4 linked regions of the Homo sapiens genome follow. The protein of the gene in region 4 interacts with the protein of the main gene of each other region in a biochemical or structural test. Each region holds a gene or a part of one and is shown on either strand. Other genes may lie near its edges.

Region 1 (3,500 bases), on a different chromosome or scaffold from region 4:
AAGGTTCCTTGGGTGTGCAACTTTGGTGCCCTACTCCACGTAAAAATCTTCTGTAGCTCAACTGAGCAAAACACACTCGCACATTCATCTACTTATTCATCATGCTTATTACCGTTCTCAAATTCAGAGGCTTGGTTCTTGTTTTTGACAACGTCCCGCTGGTTTGCCGTCCGTCTGGATGCCATCTGTGCCATGTTTGTCATCATCGTTGCCTTTGGGTCCCTGATTCTGGCAAAAAGTAAGTACAGATGTGAATAACTATGTATGGTATGATTACAATTTATAGCTGTGTTTACATTTATTAAACTCTTGCCACCTTGTCTACTACTACATACTGTTTGGTCCTAATGAAGTGTATTAAATCATTTACGATGTGTCAGGTTGGGTAGGATTCAGCAGTGTGACTCATTTAAGGAGTCATTTGGGTCTTGATGGGTTTATCTTTCTTTGAATGGGTTGAGATATGCGCAGTTGAGATTCTGAACATTCCTGTTAGTGTCTGGTAGTTGTGAAGAGAAAACCAATTTATTCTGAAGCATTTTGTCCAACTTAGGGTGTTAGCCTTCCAACTACTTGAATCTATTGTTTGTAGTTGCCTGGTGCATGAGGTTGAGAAAAATTCTCAGCAGGAGAGTATTATCTTCAATGCCACATGGGTACCAGACAAGCAGGGCATGAGTTCACCACCCCAGTAACAACAGTGCATTACAATACTTAATAATGGAACAAGGAGAGTAGTATTTTAGTCTCAAAAGCATTGGCACTTACAACCTATTGCTTTGTTTTTAGTGGTTTCCAGCTGTGGTTGCATTGCACGTAGAAAGTGGAATAATGTAATGAGCTTTGAAACCATAATAATGAATGTCTGAATAATGACATTATTTCTTGCGTTTGTAATACTGTTAATTAAATCTATGTCGATCCTGTTGGAATTCATAAAATCATCTAAAAATTTTTCTAAATATACAGTGTTGTTTTCCCCATTGTATCTTGATCTCAAGCAACAAATGGTAAAAGTATAGCTATTAATGTCATTAAATGTGAATTGTTTCAACATTATGAAGGGTTCCTCTTGGTAAGTGGCAGAAGGAGCCAGGCTTAGGTTTGAAGTGAGACTGACTTTATTCCCTTCTTCCTCCTTACGTAGCTCTGGATGCCGGGCAGGTTGGTTTGGCACTGTCCTATGCCCTCACGCTCATGGGGATGTTTCAGTGGTGTGTTCGACAAAGTGCTGAAGTTGAGAATATGGTAATATTTACCTTCACGTTCTTTGCCTTTTCAATCTCCTTGCCATTAAATGGTATAAAAGCCATTCTTATGTGAAATATTAAAACTGTTATTTTTACATCTTTGGTAACAGATTTTTTTTAAGATCCTTCCTCCATCTGTTTAAAGTTAATGTAAAATAAAATATATACATCTTTTTCTGAGTCTTATGGTTGCTCTGTCAGCAGGTTTTATATTCATCACAAGCTTTTTCAGATGTAATAAATGTCTCTGTAGGAGGGAGGTTCTGAAATTCTAGAGAGGATATAAGCTAATTTCTTAGAAGCCTGTTTAATTTTGTTTCTTAACGGGTAATTCCTCATTCCTGTTAAAAGAAGACTTCAGTATTTTGAGGTTGTTTACATTTAATTAATAGGTCTCCTCCTCTCCCAGTTCTAGCGTTTACTCTCTTATGTGAAGAACAGAAGGGAGGAAGGCCTTAACTTTGCTGGTGTGCCTTCTTGGTACAGAAAGCCTCCTCTTGGAATGTGCTAGTCAAAGGGTATTAGTTTATGGTGGTATAGGAGGCTTTAATCAATGTTTTAAATATTTGCACCTTCCCCTAAAGAGAGAAAAGCAATAAACATAAAAATCTTTTCATTCTTCTCATAGAGCAAAAGTTGAGTAATTATTACAGTGAGGTTTCACGATCATCCAGTTTAACTGACCTATATCAGGTGATCCTTCTATAGCAAAAGATTCTTTTTTGGGGGGTAGGGGTGAGGGGACAGAGTTTTGCTCTTGTACCCCAGGCTGGAGTGCAATAGTGCGATCTTGGCTCACTGCAACCTCCGCCTCCCGGGTTCAAGCGATTTTCCTGCCTCAGCCTCCTGAGTAGCTGGGATTACAGGCATGCAGCACCACGCCCAGCTAATTTTTGTATTTTTAGTAGAAATGGGGTTTCACCATGTTGACCAGGCTGGTGTCAAACACCTGACCTTAGGTGATCCACCTGCCCCGGCCTCCCAAAGTGCTGGGATTATAGGCATGAGCCACCGCGCCCAGCCAGCAAAAGATTCTTGATTGGTGGCTCTAAGTATTCCTTTCCTTTACAAAATTTTCTTGCCTTTAATACAGGTGTGAGAAGTGGATAAATAAAATCTAAGCATTCATTTCTCTCATTCTTTTAACCTAATGTTGAAGGAAGTGGTTGTAAGTGAAGGTGTTACACAATGATGAACCAAATTTGTAAGTCATCAACATCCTCGTCTGTCTCCTGCTTCTCTCCTTAACCAACTATGTATGAAAGAAGAACATTTCATTGACAGTCTCTTAACATCCATAAATGACACCCTCCATTCCTAACCCCTCGGGATGTCATATTTCTTTCAGATGATCTCAGTAGAAAGGGTCATTGAATACACAGACCTTGAAAAAGAAGCACCTTGGGAATATCAGAAACGCCCACCACCAGCCTGGCCCCATGAAGGAGTGATAATCTTTGACAATGTGAACTTCATGTACAGTCCAGGTGGGCCTCTGGTACTGAAGCATCTGACAGCACTCATTAAATCACAAGAAAAGGTTTGTTTAAAGCATCTTGCCTCTTCTCAATTTCAGAAGATTTAGTGCTATGTCTGCTTGTTGTCTTCCTTGTGGATGTGTGAAGGGGATCAGTGATACGTAGGTTAACCTGTCTTGGAAACTAACCATGGAATGTGGATACCAACATTCTTCCTGCTGTGAACTGCTTTACTGTGGTTGGTGGGCCCCGGGCCTCAGGGCTGGAGCTTAACGTGACCCAGGATACTCTGTTTGATACCTAATTACTCATGGATTTTTCCAGGAAGTCAACTCTGGCTTTGTGTCACCAACACTCCTATGTCTAATTCTGTCGATTTTTACTTTGTTGCATTTCTCAAGTCCTTCTCTTCCCCTCCACTGCTGCAGCTTCTGTTCCAGCCTTTCTCCTCCTCCATCCTTTGGTCCTGTATTAGTCTGTTTTCACACTGCTGATAAAGGTATACCCAAGACTAGGCAATTTACAGAAGAAAGAGAGGTTTAATGGACTTAAAGTTCCACATGGATGGGGAGGCCTCAGACTCATGATGGCAGGCAAGGAGGAGCAAGTCACATCTTATATGGATGGCAGCAGGCAAAGAGAGTTTGTGCAGGGAAACTTCCCCTTATAAAACCATCAGATCTCATGATACTTATTCACTATCATGAGAACACCACAGGAAAGACCTGCCCCCATGATTCAATTACCTCCCACCGGGTCCCTCCCACAACAT
Region 2 (4,021 bases), on a different chromosome or scaffold from region 4:
TCTTGAACTCCTGGGCTCAAGTGATCCACCAGCCTTGGTCTCCCAAAGTGCTGAGATTACAGGCGTGAGTCACTGCACCTGGCCTGCCTCACCTTTTGAACATATAGGATCTTACTTAAAGTGCTATGACAAACATGCAACCTGAACATCTAGAGTCATTCTGTTTGTCTGGCGTTTGAACACGAAAGATACTAGAAATTAACTCTGCCTGCTGAACTTTTTGCAGGAATCAGATTGAATTTCTTTTGAGGGCTCTCAGGTTTACACTTGTAAAATAACCTATTATGTTTAAAAATTATGAATAGTTGCTTTACATAGGAAACCAGTAAAATAACAATGATCCTTAAAAATCTGTGTGTGTGTGTGTGTGTGTGTGTGTGTAAATGTACTTCATATTTCCACAGCATCTGTCATTTAACAGTTTCTAAGCCTTTTTGGTGTCCTTTTGAAATTGGAGATATTGGATAAAACAAAGCCCCCAAATCCAATTCAGTAGATAATGACTAAATTATTATTTATCTCCTCTGTTTTGTTTCATTATGTTCATTTTCAAACTTTGATGTCTACCAGTTTCTTCTGTGGAGCTTATAAAAAATATAAATACCCGAAGTGTATGCATGGCCTACTAAATCAGAGTCTCACAGTTGATGGTACCTGGGTTTAGCAGAATACATAGGTGGTCCTGGTGCACCCTGAAGCGCGAAACGCTGCTCTGGGTGAAAAAAAGTGCTAGCAGGGAAATGTGTTAGCAAAATAACAAGGAAAAGAAAGTTAACAAATCTCAAATTGGAAAAGAAAAATCTTAAAAAGAAAGACGTGAATAATGGCGTTCAGTCTTGGTTGGTGTCATTTCTCACAGGCCAATTACCTACAGTCTGGGTGGACTAGAGAATAGAGATTAACATCAGTCAAATCCCGTGGTTAAAGCGTTAACTAGAATGTCCATTCATTTCTCAAGAAGTGTGGCAGAGAGCAAAGGAGTGTACCTATCAGCTGTTCCTAAGAAAGTAAACACTCCCAACATGCACTGAGGCACAGGGAGTGGCTCAGGTTTCTTGACACTTCCCTGCTGTGGCGAAAAGGAGAAATAATTAACAGCTCCTGGGGCTCCAGGATCGCTGATCGCGTCGGGGGCACTGCAAGCGCCCAGCTGAGCCATGCTCTGGGAGGAGACAGGCGCCGCCCCTGCGCCCGCGCGGGCCTCGGACCTCCCCTACAGGTGAGTGACTCGCGGAGTCCCAGCCCGGCAGAGACAGGGCACTGGTTTCCCTCTACCAGAGTTCCTGACCCAGCCGAGAACAAACCGCGAAGCAAGTTCAGCCGAACAACGATGGTGAAAAGGGTCCTCCTGCTCACAGTGTGAATAACAGGTAAAAAATGGGGATGGGGAAAAAAACTTTCTAATCCACTCCCTGGGGTCATGTTGAGGGCAAGTTATTAGAAAGCAGAATCCATAGGCAACAAAGTTAAGTGTGTGTGTGTCATAGCAGCCTGAATCGCACACATGCCTTTTCCTTTTGATTTTCTCAGAATATGCTTTCCTAACCAAGGTAAGCTTGTAGGGTGGGAGGGAGAGAGGGGAAAGAAGGGAGGGAAAGGGTGCAGAGAAGGGCTTGGAGGTAAATGTGACCATAGGACCCCTCCTCCCTTTAGTTCAATGAGCCCTTCACCTGTAATTGTGCCTGGCAAAAATCGTGCCTTACAAAGATACTAGACTTCTGGATGGCATACTCCTTCCTCTGAGTATCCTTATGGTTAGAATATTGTGTTGAATCATCGCACTGGAAAGAACTTAATTGAGGGTTCAGCTCAACTTTTATTTGTTTCTGCAAAGTGACAGAAAGCATGCCCCCCACCAAAAAAAAAATGAATTTTCAATATAAGCGCTCACCAAACAATGAAATAATAAACATAAATAATTAAATGGGAGTGCATGAGTTAAGGATATGAATTCTGAAGCAGAAGAGTGGTAGGTTCAAAGCTCGGCTTTGCCACTTATTAGTTTGCCCCCTCTCAAGTTTCTTAACCTAAGCCCCAAACGTTTGTCTGTAAAACAAGCATCATCAAAGGATCTGCCACATAAGGCTTTCTTTGATGGGAACTGAACAGTCAGCAAGTGTTCTGTAAGTGATACCTACTGTTAGCATTAAGAATAAGCTGCTCTGCCAAAGGGGCCGTTATCAGGGAGGGCAAGCTGAACTAGGGAGACCAGACAGTGTGTATTAGGATGCTGGAATTGAACTGGTTCCCGGAGACTGGATCCAGGACAGGCAAGCAGGTGACAGGTGTGCTAGGATCATCTCTCTGGGTAGCAACGAAATGACCTGGCTTCTTTCCATTTTTCAGATAGAGTATGTGGTGGCAAATTCAGACATATTTGCTACTCAATCAGTTTTCTTTTGAAAAATTCACATTTACATTAATCTGTTATTCCTAAAAAGAAAATAGAATTTTAGAGTAAGAGAGTTACACACAATCTCATATTGTGGAATTCATGCCATTTGGGTTTTATAAAGGAGACTGCTTTTGAATAACTTTCATCAATTTAGACCATATAATCCATGTCTTTATATTTCAGCACATATTGAATTGTTTGTATTGAAGTGCTGTTTTTAATTTGTGTTGATGGACAAGAGACATGAAGGAATAATACTTGTATTTTGTCAGTCTCTACCTCTTAAGCTTAAATTACAGGAAAGTGGCTTTATTTTATGAAGTTTCACTTAAAGGGCACTTTTGTCAATGTTGTTAGTTATTAATGTTGCTAATTTTCTTGAGGGGACCAACTTAGTGTCTATGACTAGTAATTTCCATTGACTTCATTTTTATCTTGTTATTTTATTAAATAAAGCAGTCAAAGAGTTTGCAGTATACTCTAACTTAATATCATTGGTGTTTTAATGGATTCTTTTTTCAAATTGCAGAGTTGAAATTCTTCAGTGTGCTTACAATTAGATATTGACTGGAGAATTGTGGATAGAATTCTAAACCCAACCTAACTGAAGTTTACTATGTTATTTCCCTCTGGGGTCTGATTGTGTTTAGTACAGTTTAGCTAAAAACTTATAAAGGAATCAAATTGAATTAGAATAAGTTAGGGTTCCAATATTCATTAAAGATTTTTCAAAGAGGAAATATGCTTTTATGCTGAATTTCCATATTGTTATACATCCTTAAACAAAGTTATTTGCCTTTATATTTATTGATAGACATATGTCTAAATAAAGAATAGTAGCCCCAATTGAGATAAATTTATTTAACCATATTTGAAATTGATTTGAGATTAATCTACTTAACCGTAACTGGGTGGAAGTCTTTCTAGTTAAAATCTGTTTAGATAGATAGATAGATAGATAACAACTTTATATCTATACATTAGAATATTGTGTTGAATTTACATTTATTCTACTATTTCTCACGTGTATAACATTTTATTATAAACTATTAAATGTTGTGGTCAATCAGAGAGAGAGAGAAAGAGAGAAAAGAGTGACACAGAGAGACCCAGCAATGATTACGAAAAAATTAACTTTTCCAGTTATATTCAAAATAGTGTAACATGTATGTAACAAGTCTTTTAAGCATGTAATTAAAAGTTCTATACCTGATTCTTGTTTTAATTTCCTAAAATAAGAAGGATCCTTTACTTTTAACTGAGATAGAAACCCAATGCTGACAGTCCATTTGCTTATATAGATTCATTGATTGCAATGTAGGTGGGGAATTCACGGTTACTAGAGTTACATGGGCTTCATATAAAAGCTTAGATTTTTAAAATATTCAAGTATAGGCCATTTGAAAACAAAACCTCTGAGAAAGGAATTCTGAATATTTTCCTTTCACATTACAGTTAGAGAGTTATTCTGTTGCAAAAATTAATTTGTATGTTTAAAATGATAAATTATAGTGATTTCATCACTTTCATAACATAATCTCAACAACCAAACTTAACTAATACCACTGCTTTCAGGAGTAGAACATGAAGTGTCTCCTATTTAAGTAATAAGGATGTTAACTTAAA
Region 3 (3,500 bases), on a different chromosome or scaffold from region 4:
CATGTTGACAGAAATGATCCAACTCTCTTAGAGGGAAACAGGCAGGTGCTGAAATACTCCAGAAAAGGAGCCAGAATTAGTAATGGTAGGCTGCTGATGGCATTCATTACTGCAATCGGCAGAAGAAATCCATCCAAATTCAGGTTGGAATTCATAGTTTGCAGATAATATCCTGAAGGAATCTGTATTCGAGAGGGAAACATCCATGCATTAAGACAGGGGTTTAACTTTGAAGAAAGCATCGTCCACCAGAGGCCTACCCTCTTGCACGTACTCTGTGATGGATGAGCTGGATGTTGCCTAGTTTTTCAAGTTCCCAGTTATGAGCTGATAAAGGGTCTTCATCTGTGGTGGTAGGAGCTCTGTCTAGTCTATTGACAATAGTACTCATTACTCATGAAATACTCTATCATCATTTAGTCTCTCTTAATTTTTCTATGAAAAGTAATGATGGCCCCAATTTTGTGCTTAAGATGACACATAAAAAGCCAAATAACTTAAATTCTGTAGATAAGCAAAATGACTTTTCTTCATGAACACTAATATAAAACCAGTAAAAAATACTAAAGACGTCTGTTTTTACCCTGATGAAAAAAATGAGGCTAGAATAGATTCTTTAAAAAGCATCTAGTTTGGTGGCAATATAGAAACGACTTTTTCCTAAGAAGAGGGGCCCAATGTGGACACGTGTTAATTGCTGTAGGCTGTCTTTGAGGGGGCTATTTAGAGAGGCTTTGTTTCCAATGTGAACTAAGTAACAGGGGGAGGAAAAAAAAACCTTGTGTCTTTGCCCTCCCTTCAAACTAATTACGTGATGCTAGAATTCCATAAAGGAAACAACATGAAAAAGGTTTGCATGATAAAGTGAAAGATACAATTTTTTTAAAAAAAAACCCTGTGCTCCACCCCAAATCCTCAATGTATTGTTAGAATTTCTTCATTTTAAAAATAACCCCAATGCTAACTAAAACTCTAACACTGATTTGGAGCCTCTTAGTGTATTCCAATCCTCTTGGCAACCGAGTGTGATATCAGAACCAAGGGATGATGTCACATGAAAGAGGTGTCTCTTCACTTTTCTAGTACATGAGCTTTGTTACAGCTTCATCAGCTTCATCATGATCTTTTTTATTTTTATTTTTTTTGAGACAGAGTCTCGCTCTGTCACCCAGGCTGGAGTGCAGTGGTGTGATCTCGGCTCACGGCAAGCTCCACCTCCCAGGTTCACGCCATTCTCCTGCCTCAGCCTTCCGAGTAGCTGAGACTACAGGCGCCCGCCACCACGCCTGGCTAATTTTTCTGTATTTTTAGTAGAGATGAGGTTTCACCGTGTTAGTCAGGATGGTCTCGATCTCCTGACCTCGTGATCTGCCTGCCTCAGCCTCTCAAAGTGCTGGGATTACAGGTGTGAGCCACCGTGCCCGGCCCATCATGATCTTTAGTAGCGCATAGTATTTCTTTAATTCCCAGTGGTACACAAAGCTATTGAGTGTCATAGACAGAAAGTCAACCAAGTCTTCTTGAGGAATGGATCCTCCAAACTCGTATGGTACAAGAGCTGCATTAGGATCCCTGCTTCACCACCATCCTGGGAGAGCAGCCTCGCTCAAATATCCAGATGATAACTTCTCATTTGAAACATTTGCTAACCCCTTCTCTAGACTCAATTGTACAATTCAAGAGGGTATATATGGAGAATCAGTATTATGGTGTCAGTACAGCTGTTACCAAGTCCACTAATTGTAAAATGAGCCTATTGCCATGTTAACTGCGCAAACACAGGACAAGACCACATTTTCACTGAGATTCTTTCTGTAGACAACGTGTCCTGGTGATCATTTATCTCCCAATCTTTAATTTGACCCTTAGCATAGTAAACAAGGATTGTTTTGGCTGAGTACAGATGGCAAGAGTTAAAGGAACATTAGTTAGTTCTGCCCTACTTCAATAAAATTATTAAGCATGGATCCCCCATCGGAGGAAAATGAATGATGTGTTTTAACAAAAAGTGCTGGCAGCGGAACAACTCTAAGACTGAAAGGCTCCCAGCACAACTTGGAAGTTTCTGTTACTGATTTCAAATGAGAATTATTGTTAATAGGAATAAAGTTATTATCGGCATGAATCACAGACACAGAAATATGTTAACTTAATAATGTGGCAAATGTACTATTAATCTTTAGTGAAGCAATATTAATATATTGCCTAATCTTAGAAAAGGCTGCAGTGTCTTGAAAGCTTGAAATCATTTCTGCCTCTGCCTGAAGTTCTGAAATCATCGCCCTGTAAAATTTTAAATACTTTTATTTCATCCAAGCCTTTGAGTATTCAGAAATAATTGCTGTCAATAGAGATTCATTCTCACCTTTGACTGGCCAGTAATGTCAAATGGCAACCTCATCAGCCGTAATATCAACATATTTTAGATGTATGTCTTGCAACTGAAGGTCAATAATGGCTACTAAATTTAAAATATGTATGAAATTCTATGATGTTTTATTCTTGGTACTTTGATTGCCTTTGTACTGGTGATTATTTCATCTGGGGGCAAAAAACTAAACCCAGCCTATCCTATTGGAAATTCCTCTGCCTCCCTGGTGAAGTATGATCTAAGCATTTTCTTTGAAGTTTCTAGCATAACATTACTGTATATAATTTTGGAATCTATGTAGTTTGTATCAGGGACTTTTAACCCAATGCAAGAGTGATATTGAGGATAATAAAGCATGGCGCTTGACACTAATCCTGAGGTGGGATGTTGCTCTGCCACACATTAGCAAGGTGACTGGGAACAAGTTGCAACTTAGTTTCTGAGCCTCAGATTTAGGAGAGTAATAGCCATGTAGCCTTGCTGTGGGGATTAAATTACGTACTGTGAAGCCATCTTTTAGAAGCTATGGCACTTAATAGGTGATCAGTAACTATTAGTTTCTGTGCTTTGCAATAAGTTGCACATCTAGATTTGGTGATATGCTTAAAAATTAGTTTATCAAAATTTATTGTAATTTATGTTCAATTAAAAAATATATGACAGTGTGCAAAGAAGGGTCCAACTTAGTGGAAAGAAATGTCAGGTGTCATTGCATTATGAAGGTAAGGAACTGGTATTCTGTGCTACTTGCACATAAGCTTTTGAGGTTAGCTATGGGCCATGTAGTAATTTTGTACTGTTTATCGGTTCCTCCAATCTAAGATGTTTTATTATATTAATGCTTACATATATGGGTAATATTTCTGCTGTATTCTGTTTTTGTGCCTACTGCTATTATAGAGTCAAGAGGGAGTTTGAATCTTCTAAATCAGACTAGCTTTCATGCATTATTTAGTCTAGAGGTCAAGAAATTTTCTGTAAAGGGCCAGATAGTAAATATGTCCACATATGGGTTCCGTGGCAATTACTCAACTCTGCTATTTTTGTGCATAAGCAGACATAGATACGACAAAACAAAGAGCATGGCTATGTTCTGATAAAACTTCATTTATGGACGCTAAAATTTAAA
Region 4 (5,189 bases):
TTCTTTTTTTTTTTTCGCCATGTTGCCCAGGCTGGTCTTGAACTCTTGGCACTCAAGCAGTCCTTCTGCCTCAGCCTCCCAAAGTGCTGGGATTACAGATGTGAGCCACTGCACCTGGCCCCAGAAATTATGCTTAAAAAAAAAATTAAGCTGTGTGGAATCTGGACAAGGCTATGTTTCTCCTAGAAACAGGTTTTGCTGTAAATGGTTTTGATGGGCGAAAGTGTGAGAAAAGGTTATAATAGATTCTTTTTTTTAATTTTGTGAGAAATTCCAGGTCTTCTTGCTTAACTTATATGCATGTGGATATATTTGTTTTCAAAGCCATGGAAGAATCTCTGTTCATATATTTTAATGCAAATTACCTTGTATGCTGCTATGCAAATTCTATTAAAAGGCCTACCTGCTTAAGAATTAAACATTTTTGAAACTTTCAGGGAAGACCTGTAGACTCAAGCACTTTCTCTGCTTTTTTGTATCTTATCTTGGACACTTATGCTGAATTATGTTCTTATTATTTTCACTGGTTATAAGCTATTCCTTGTACATAATATTTAAACTATCCAAATATCCAGCATACATTTCCATGTGGCTGCCATCGGCTGTTGATGCCATGAATGAAATGGCTGGTTAGAAAGCCAAAGGTCTTCTTTTTTCAATTCCTAATGAATAAGTAAAATGCCAGATCTCTTTGGTCTCAAAGCAAATTGCTCTGATCAGATCAAATATCTATGTAATGAAAAGAGACTTACTTAAATTTGGGATTCTGCTTAAACTTTAAGTTGAATTTGACTGTAGTCATTCATTCTTTTTATATATCTCTGTCAGGTATGACATTAATTACCAGGTGGTATTATACTCTACTTTGAGTTTGGACATCACTTTCAGTTAAATTTCTGTTGTTATTGTGGCTTTTTTTTTTTTTTAACCCCACTGAAGATGGAAGTAGAGCAGTCTGCCATCTCCTGCTGTTCTTTCTCTGTGCCCCCTAATTGCTTGGTAATCTAAAATTATTCTGACTTTCCACATACTGTCTTTAAAAACCAATTGTAGCAATCTGCCCGCCTCCACCCTTTAAGCTAAATCTTTCACTGTGCTGGATACATAGACACTCGATAAATGTGTGATGATAGTTCTAAAATAATTATGCTATATATCAGGGTTCTGTATTTTTGAGCAATATCATTATTCCTATGCTGTGATGTTAAATGGAATTTATTTTACACTAGTAATAGACTGCTTAAGTGGCTGATTTGAAACCTTTCTCTAAAAAAACAAAAACATCTGGCAGATGAGTGACACAAATTCATTCTCTTAAAGGATAGAATTTCAAGTTAAGGATAAGGCACAATAAATAGGCACATAGAGGACATCTGTTTTTGTTTTTGGTTTTGGTTTTGTTTTTTTTTGTCTCTCTGACTAGCTAAACTGCCAACTAGAAGAATGGTTGTTATGTAGTAACTCAGAAGAATCTTTTAATAAGTTTCTTCTTTTGTTTCAAAACAAACTTGAGCTTCATTTCTTGCCACCTCTATTCTTTCTTCCCACGTTGGGTGACTGAACTGATGCTTATTCTAGTTTTAGAAGAGGATCCACATTTAATGTAAGGCATAAATATGCCTTTTGCAAATTATTGCTTGTTCTCCAGTGAACATTTGATCATATTCAACAGAAATCCACCATATAAACCATAATCCTTGAATTGCCCCTTTTAAAATAGATTGGTTAAAACCAAAAACCTATAAGAGAGAAATGATATTTCATTGTATTGTAGGTTTGGGAATCCTGGTTAGATTTATAATTTCTGGCCGGGTGCGGTGGCTCATGCCTGTATTCCCAGTACTTTGGGAGCCCAAGGTGGGTGGATCACCTGAGGTAAGGAGTTTGAGACCAGCCTGGCCAACATGGTGAAACCCCATCTCTACTAAAAATACAAAAAGTTAGCTGGGCATGGTGGTGCGCGCCTGTGGTCCCAGCTACTCGGGAGGCTGAGGTGGGAGAATCCCTTGAACCCAGGAGGCAGAAGTTGCAGTGAGCTGAGATCATGCCATTGCACTCCAGCCTGGGCAACAGAGCGAGACTTCATCTCCAAAAAAAGAAAAAGAAGAAAAAGATTTATAATTTCTGAGTCCCCTAAGTCCCTTTCTCAGTTTGCAATAATCTTACGTCCATGCTATTGACACTAATTTTGAAACTGGAAAGCTAATTAATGACATATTCATGTGTTCTTTCATCTAATAAACATTTATTAATGTATAGTTCTACACCAGGCATTCTGAAGGGTCCAAAAGAAAGTTCCTGCCCTCTAGTAGCACATAATCCGTTATTTCTCAGCACACCATGCCATCTGTTTATCATTCAGCAGTTAAGTAATTCATCACTTCATATTTTTACCAAAGTATATTTACAAGTCTGTTTATCTGGATCTGGCAAACTGGAAAATGTTTGAAGGGATACTCAGGCTTTGATCCATGCCAACATGAAAGGACTCCAAGCACATTTAAGTAGGCTGGTCTTTTCATCATGCATGATTTTTTTTTTAGTGCAAATTTAGACTTTAGTTTGGGAAAGAGAACAGTATACAGTATCCTTTGTAAGATAAATCACAACAACAAAAATTAAGTTTTATTGCACAAAGTAGATAAATGAGAAAGTCTTTCTTAAAAAATGCTTCTTTAACTGTAACAGCAAAACTAAATGCATATTTTATCAACCCCTTATTTCTAATTGCTGTATTCATTTCCACCCTTAAACTATTTAAGCATTTCATCTGCTGAAAGTCCTTATATACATGGTAGACGGAATATTTCTCCATTAATGATAGATCAAAATGAAGATATTTAAAAATTAACAAAATCAGGCCAAGGCAGGAGGATCACTTTAGCCCAGGAGGTCCAGACCAGCCTGGGCAACACAGCGGGACCCCGACTCCATTTAAAAAATTAAAAAAAAAAAAAAAACTTTTAACATTTAAAAAATAAAAATTAACAAAATTTCACTTATTCCAGGACACGCTGGCATTTGGACTCAATGAAAAGGGCACCTAAAGAAAATAAGGCTGACTGAATGTTTTCCATAATTTTCACACAATAACAGTCCCTTTCTATCCAGCTTGCCTTCCATTTATCTCTAGGGTTAGCTTTTCAGGCAACATCCTTGGTCATTGCCCAGAAAGTACCTGAGCTATCAGTGATTGGAATGGCACAGGAAACCGAATCACATGGGTGCCCTCCCCTTGGTTTTCAAGTATCTTGGAGTTGTGCACAAAAATTAGGTCATGCCTTCAGTGTCTTGTTCTTTAAACCTACCCTTTGACAATCAGGTGCTAATGATTGTATACTATTAAAACCAGCACATAAGTATTGTAAATGTGTGTTCCTCCTAGGTTGGAAGAAATGTCTTTCCTTCTATCTGGGTCCTGTTAAAGCGGGTGTCAGTTGTGTCTTTTCACCTCGATTTGTGAATTAATAGAATTGGGGGGAGAGGAAATGATGATGTCAATTAAGTTTCAGGTTTGGCATGATCATCATTCTCGATGATATTCTCACTTTGTCGCAAATCTGCCCTTATCGTAAGAACAAGTTTCAGAATTTTCCCTCCACTATACGACTCCAGTATTATGTTTACAATCCATTGGATGAGTGCAGCATTATAAGACCTTGGTGCCCAGAAAAATCTGTCCTTTTTGGTACCAAACCTGAGGTCTTTTGGAAGATAATGTAGAAAACCACTACCTATTGAAGGCCTGTTTTGGCTAATCTGTGCAAACTCTGATGATACCTGCTTATGTGGATTCTTTTCCACACTGCTTTCATTTTTAAGTATAAAGACTTAGAAAACTAGAATAATGCTTTTACAAATAATTAAAAGTATGTGATGTTCTGGGTTTTTTCCTTCTTTTTAGAACCCTGTATTTAAACAAGCCTTCTTTTTAAGTCTTGTTTGAAATTTAAGTCTCAGATCTTCTGGATACCAAATCAAAAACCCAACGCGTAAAACAGGGCAGTATTTGTGTTCCTAATTTTAAAAAGCTTTATGTATACTCTATAAATATAGATGCATAAACAACACTTCCCCTTGAGTAGCACATCAACATACAGCATTGTACATTACAATGAAAATGTGTAACTTAAGGGTATTATATATATAAATACATATATACCTTTGTAACCTTTATACTGTAAATAAAAAAGTTGCTTTAGTCACGTGGGTTGTTTTTTTTTTCCAATTTTTAAAATGCTGAAATAGTTTTGAACCTACAGGAAAGTTACAAAAACAATACAAATCTTCTTCACCCAAACCTTCCAGTTGTTAACATTTTGCCATATTTATTCCATTACCTTGTCTTTCTCTAATATGATTCTCTAGCACCCTTAAATTCTCTAGTGAGGACCTCCAAAACATAAGGACAGTCCTTGCATTGCCACCATAAAGTCCTCCTAATCAAGAAATCAACATTGGCACACCACCACTCATTCCATAGACCCCATTCAAATGATGCCAGCCATCCCGGCCATGTCCTGTTTTCCTCTCTGGCCTTGGATCCTGGCCAATACCACTTTCTTGCCTTTTGTCGTCGTGTCTCAGTTCTTCAGTCTGGAATGTTCCTCGGCCTTACTCTAATTCGCATGTGCCTGAGTCTCAGCACAAGGCTTTGATTGTTCAGCACAGCTCTCCAGCTGGCTCTATTCGGTGTTGCCTCACAACCAGGCTGTGTCACACACTCTTGGCAGAGATGCCACGATGCCATGCTCTCTTCAGGGTATCATGTGGAGAGACACACGAGGGCCACGCATCCCACCACCAGGGGTGTTCCCTTCGGTCGCGTAGTCAAGCTAATGTCCTCATTGTTTTCTCCTTTGTATTTATTTATTTATTTAGAGATGGAGTTCCGCTCTTGTCGCCCAGGCTGGAGTGCAATGGCGTGGTCTTGGCTCACTGCAACCTCCGCCTCCCAGGTTCAAGCGATTCTCCTGTCTCAGCCTCCCAAGTAGCTGGGATTACAGGTGCCCACCACCATGGCCGGCGAATATTTTGTATTTTTAGTAGAGACAGGGTTTCACCATGTTGGCCAGGCTGGTCTTGAACTCCTGACCTCAAGTGATCCACCTGCCTCGGCCTCCCAAAGTACTGGGATTATAGGCGTGAGCCACCGCGCCCGGCCTCTCCTTTGTATTTAATTAGCATTT

Evidence for each region. The genes of interacting proteins can lie anywhere in the genome.
Region 1: the proteins of SNTB2 (region 4) and ABCC4 interact in a test that uses a peptide from one of them, tested with the Homo sapiens proteins (one large-scale study listed by IntAct).
Region 2: the proteins of SNTB2 (region 4) and RASSF6 interact in a test that uses a peptide from one of them, tested with the Homo sapiens proteins (one large-scale study listed by IntAct).
Region 3: the proteins of SNTB2 (region 4) and SLC15A5 interact in a test that uses a peptide from one of them, tested with the Homo sapiens proteins (one large-scale study listed by IntAct).

What each region holds. Positions count from the first base shown.
Region 1 is NC_000013.11:95,070,952-95,074,451, reverse strand, and holds part of ABCC4 (ATP-binding cassette sub-family C member 4), read left to right. Parts: intron 1-127; coding exon 128-238; intron 239-1,147; coding exon 1,148-1,248; intron 1,249-2,598; coding exon 2,599-2,790; intron 2,791-3,500. UniProt on the Homo sapiens protein: ATP-dependent transporter of the ATP-binding cassette (ABC) family that actively extrudes physiological compounds and xenobiotics from cells.
Region 2 is NC_000004.12:73,617,637-73,621,657, reverse strand, and holds the start of RASSF6 (ras association domain-containing protein 6), read left to right. Parts: upstream 1-1,221; 5' UTR 1,222-1,370; intron 1,371-4,021.
Region 3 is NC_000012.12:16,239,686-16,243,185, forward strand, and holds part of SLC15A5 (solute carrier family 15 member 5), read right to left. Parts: intron 183-3,500; coding exon 1-182. UniProt on the Homo sapiens protein: Proton oligopeptide cotransporter.
Region 4 is NC_000016.10:69,304,848-69,310,036, forward strand, and holds the end of SNTB2 (beta-2-syntrophin), read left to right. Parts: 3' UTR 1-4,205; downstream 4,206-5,189. UniProt on the Homo sapiens protein: Adapter protein that binds to and probably organizes the subcellular localization of a variety of membrane proteins. May link various receptors to the actin cytoskeleton and the dystrophin glycoprotein complex.